Regions from separate parts of the Homo sapiens genome. Here region 2 is linked to region 1. A link means that fine-mapping ties the variant in region 1 to the expression of a gene that starts in the linked region. Tissue or cell type: nucleus accumbens. Region 1 holds a variant in brackets; the other region holds the start of a gene. All regions are shown on one strand. Distances are between the middles of the regions.

Region 1 (2,614 bases):
ATAAACCACATGATTATCTCAATAGATGCAGAAAAAGCCTTCAACAAAATTCAACAGCCTTCATACGAAAAACTCTCAACAAACTAGGCACTGATGGAACATATCTCAAAATAATAACAGCCATTTATGACAAACCCACAGCCAATATCATACTGAATGGGCATAACCTGGAAGCATTCCCTTTGAAAACCAGCACAAGACAAGGATGCCCTCTCCCACCACTCCTATTCAACACAGTATTGGAAGTTCTGGCCAAGACAATCAGGCAGGAGAAAGAAATAAAGGATATTCAATTAGGAAAAGAGGAAGTCAAATTGTCCCTGTTTGCAGATGACATGATTGTATATTTAGAAAACTCCATCATCTCAGCCCCAAATCTCCTTAAGCTGATAAGTAACTTCAGCAAAGTCTCAGGATACAAAATCAATGTGCAAAAATCACAAGCATTCCTATACACCAAAAACAGCCAAACAGAGAGCCAAATCGTGAGTGAACTCCCATTCACAATGGCTACAAAGAGAATAAAATACCTAGGAATACAACTTACAAGGGATGTGAAGGACCTCTTCAAGGAGAACTACAAACCACTGCTCAAGAAAATAAGAGAGGACACAAACAAATGCAAAAACATTCCATGCTCATGGATAGGAAGAACCAATATCATCAAAATGGCCATACTGCCCAAAGTAATTTATAGATTCAATGCTATCCCAATCAAGCTACCATTGACTTTCTTTACAGAATTAGAAAGAACTTTAAATTTCATATGGAACCAAAAAAGAGCCCGCATAGCCAACACAATCCTAAGCAAAAAGAACAAAGCTGGAAGCATCACACTAACTGACTACGAACTATACTACAAGGCTACAGCAACAAAAACGGCACGGTACTGGTACCAAAACAGATATATAGACCAATGGAACAGAATAGAGGCCTCAGAAACAACGCCAAACATCTACAACCATCTGATCTTTGAGAAACCTGACAAAAACAAGAAATGGGGAAAGGATTCCCTATTTAATAAATGATGTTGGCAAAACTGGCTAGCCATATGCAGAAAGCTGAAACTGAATCCCTTCCTTACACCTTATACAAAAATTAACTCAAGATGGATTAAAGACTTAAACGTAAGACCTAAAACCATAAAAACCCTAGAAGAAAACCTAGGCAATACCATTCAGGACATAGGCATGGGCAAAGACTTCATAACTAAAACACCAAAAGCAGTGGCAACAAAAGCCAAAATAGAAAAATGGGATCTGATTAAACTAAAGAGCTTCTGCACAGCAAAAGAAACTATCAACAGAGTGAACTGGCAACCTACAGAAAATTTTTGCAACCTACCCATCTGACAAAGGGCTAATATCCAGAATCTA[C/A]AAAGAACTTAAACAAATTTACAAGAAAAAAACAAATAACTCCATCAAAAAGTGGGTGAAGGATATGAACAGAAACTTTTCAAAAGAAGACATTTTTGCATCCAACAAACATGAAGAAAAGCTCATCATCACTGGTCATTAGAGAAATGCAAATCAAAACCACAATGAGATACCATCTCACACCAGTTAGAATGGTGATCATTAAAAAGTCAGGAAACAACAGATGCTAGAGAGGACGTGGAGAAATAGGAATGCTTTTACACTGTTGGTGGGAGTGTAAATGAGTTCAACCATTGTGGAAGACAGTGTGGCGATTCCTCAAGGATCTAGAACTAGAAATACCATTTGACCCAGCAATCCCATTGCTGGGTATATACCCAAAGGATTATAAATCATTCTACTATAAAGACACATGCACATGTATGCTTACTGCAGCACTGTTCACAATAGCAAAGATTTGGAGCCAACCCAAATGCCCATCAATGATAGACTGGATAAAGAAAATGCAGCACATATACACCAGGGAATACTATGCAGCCATAAAAAAGGATGCATTCATGTCCTTTGGAGGGACGTGGATGAAGCTGGAAACCATCATTCTCAGCAAACTAACACAAGAACAGAAAACCAAACACCTCAGGTTCTCATTCATAAGTGGGAGTCGAACAATGAGAACACATGGACACAGGGGCAGGAGATCACACACCGGGGCCTGTAGGGGGTGGGGGGCTGGGGGAGGGATAGCATAAGGAGAAATACCTAATGTAGATGACGGGTTGATGGGTGCAGCAAACCACCAACGCATGTGTATACCTATGTAACAAACCTGCACATTCTGCACATGTACCCCAGAACTTAAAGTATAATTAAAAAAAAGTATAAATTTAGTTTCATGAATGTTGGGAACAGGCTCCACAAAATCTGGCCATAAACCAGCCCCAAAACTGGCCATAAACAAAATCTCAGCAGCACTGTGACAGGTTCATGATGGCCATAACACCCACGCTGGAAGGTTGTGGGTTTACTGGAATGAGGGCAAGGAACACCTGGCCCGCCCAGGGCAGAAAACTGCTTAAAGGAGTTCTTAAACCACAACCAGTAGCATGAGTGATCTGTGCCTTAAGGACATGCTCCTGCTGCAGATAACTAGCCAGACCCATCCCTTTATTTCAGCCCATTCCTTCATTTCTCATAAGGGATACTTTTAGTTAATCAAATATCTATAGAAACAAGGCTAA
Region 2 (2,614 bases), 68 kb after region 1:
AAAACCATCCGATGTTTACATTCAACATTCTCTGAACTTTATTGCAAATATACTCCAGAAAAACACCATAAAATGTTTTGGTAGTTTTCCCTTTAAAATAATCAGAACTGCATATTGACAGATAACATGAGTAGACCGCACTGAACAAATAACATTAGCCAATTTACTACCAAACATGTGGGCTTGCATTCATTTACCTGTCTGCGTCTCTAATTTCAAAACTTTCAGTAATCCATCTTCACCACCGCATGCTATGAACCCTTGTTCCTTGTTCCAGGATACACACTGCAGCTTCACGTTATTGGGAATGGAAATCTGAAAAAGCAACCACAGCCGCACTAGCAACTTTTCACGAAGGAGCTGGGAAGTAAGTCTGCAGGAGATGAAAGCTGAAGAAAATCTTCCAAGAAGAAAAACGAACGGCCTTGCAGAAAAAAAATGAGCTGTTGTGAAAATGGGCATGGTCCCCTGAACTGACCCGGGCTCTAGCATTTGGGAAAGAGGGAAAGAAGTGCACAAAAGAGAAGGATAGTGACTGCGGAGGAAGCCAACGCCAGAGTCTCACCGGATGGATTTTTTAAAGGGAGGACGGGGAGAGGGTATAAATCCATACCACCAGTCCCTCTTCCTTTTTACCTACAACTTAGGCTATCCTATTGTTATTTCTTTTCTCTTGCCCAATGGCTCGTGGTGATCCAAAGAGTTTAAATCACGTGGATCAGCAACAAGTGGAGGAGGAAACATAGGGTAGCACGTGGCGACTTATCCTCAAGCCACCCAAAAGGACCTAGCCAGGGGCAGGAATGGGAGAGTGCTGCGAGAGGGCAGCAAGCTCGGCCAAAGACTGAGGCTCTGGGAACCGCAGGAAGAGGTCGGAGGCTGGACCCGGCGGGAAGGATGGCTGCGGAATGGCGAAGCCACGACCAGGACCGGGTGAAGGAGCCTGGCTTCTCGGGAAGGCAGCGGGAATCGCCGCAGGCTGCGGGAATGGCGGAGAAACGAGGACGCCCCCCAGGAAACTCACTTTCTTGCTCAGGTAGAAGAACATCGTGGGATCCCCGAGAGGGTCACGGCGGCCGCTAAGGCCCTCGACAAGTAACGGTTCTACGTCTCCAATCGGGAGTACCAGCAGCTCCGGAAAGCTCCCGTCGCCCTGGCAACCGCTGTTGCCCGGTCGCATCCGGGGCGCCGCGGGACACTTCCGGTGACGCCCTCGCACCGGGCACCGGCGTAGTGCGCCTGCGCGGACGTCGATGGGTTTGTGGGCGCAGGGCGCGAGGCGCGAGGCGGTAGCTGGGCTAGTCCTGTTCCCTGGCGTCTGGGCCTTTCTGCTCTCCGCAAGGAGCTGGGTCGCGACCTGTCACTGCCAGCCGTGCGCTCGCCCTCTGCGCCCCGTCTCGTGGTCACTGCCGCCCTCCCTCCCGCCACACCTGTGATGATCGCTATGGAGCCGCGCCTCAGGTGGCATTACTATAAACCTAAGAGGAGAGGCGCCCGTTCGAATAAGGGCAAATTATTTAGTATTTTGTAAGTTCCAAAGTTCCAACATTCTTGAAAGGGAAAAGCCATTTACTGTATTTGATAGGCTGGCGCCACTGGCCAGATGAAAGTGCAAATGTGCGTACTGAGATCTTACAACCCTTCTCTGTGTCTTTGGGGATTGGAGAACCTCTAGAGCAATTTAGGAATAGAAGATTTTGTTTATTCCGCTTGTTTTGATATTTTTTAACAGTTTAATTATTACCGCAACCCCGAGGGTCCTTTTAAAGGAATTTCTGTAAACGTTGGGTAATTACAGCGTACAATTGCTATTGGGGCATGGCCTCCCATTTTACAAATATTTGAGCGTTTGGTGTTTTCTCGTCTAGAGTCGACTGTTACATATTCTCTTCTTTTTCTTACCTTCTTTCTTCATTCTCCTTTGTCCTTTTGGAATGCTTGAGAGTTACAAAGCCTCAAAGTCTAAGGCATAGGGCAGAAATCCAAGTAGAACCACTCATGAAATTATTTGGTCTCACCTATGTTTTTATTTCTGGTTTTCCCTTTTACCATAATCTAGCATGTAATTTATGCATCAGTAGTTAATTTCCCCACTTGGAGTCTTTTCCCATCTCAGACAAAAATAAAATAAAAATCCTCCAATCCTTTGACCTGGGTGATTTGTCTCACCCAGCACAATCTATTATAGAATTGACAATAGTCCCTAGTGCCTTTCCTAGCAAATCTAAACTCCATCCAAAATCAGATCTTCCCTCAATCCTAAATGTTTTTACTAGGGAGCCCCCACCTCAAGTAAGCCAATATGCTTTCTGCAGGGCAACATTCCATCCGGCTCTGCTTCCCAAGCCACTTTATATATGGTCCTACCCTCTTAACAGGCCAGTTGTGCCTAGCCAAACCAGCACAAATCAGTCTCCATGAGGAATTCTTTCCAAACTTAACCCAATCCCATTCAGATAATGTTTGCTTTCCATTGTTTGTGTGTCTGTTTAAGATACATTGGCCCCTGTCCATAGGCTCCCTATACTGGACGCATGAGACAAATTAGTATTATCTAACCCAGGAGTTTCCAATAAACTGGTCAAGACATAATTAGTTGAAGCTAGTTACTGAT

Alleles and levels. Positions count from the first base shown, and alleles are read on the strand shown. Sizes are in standard deviations (SD) of each study's normalised expression.
For the expression in nucleus accumbens of the gene that starts at base 1,237 in region 2, allele A in region 1 goes with a lower level than allele C (large effect, 0.92 SD a copy in GTEx).

Evidence for each region. PIP is the estimated chance that this variant, and not a neighbour inherited with it, causes the effect.
Region 2: WDR35-DT starts here. The variant in region 1 is fine-mapped to the expression of WDR35-DT in nucleus accumbens (GTEx, PIP 0.95).

The regions. Positions count from the first base shown.
Region 1 is chr2:19,920,474-19,923,087 of GRCh38, forward strand. The region is part of intron 25 of WDR35 (WD repeat domain 35); the gene reads right to left. Among named protein-coding and RNA genes, the nearest start is that of TTC32, 20 kb to the left of the region's middle. The variant C/A (reference allele first, on the strand shown) is at 1,377.
Region 2 is chr2:19,988,968-19,991,581 of GRCh38, forward strand. It overlaps WDR35-DT (WDR35 divergent transcript), which reads left to right and starts at 1,237. Exons shown (of 3, transcript NR_110235.1): 1 at 1,237-1,527. It overlaps WDR35 (WD repeat domain 35), which reads right to left and starts at 1,138. Exons shown (of 27, transcript NM_020779.4): 1 at 1,025-1,138; 2 at 198-315. The coding sequence starts at 1,048. RefSeq lists enhancers at 869-918, 935-1,438, 1,069-1,118 and a silencer at 1,279-1,358.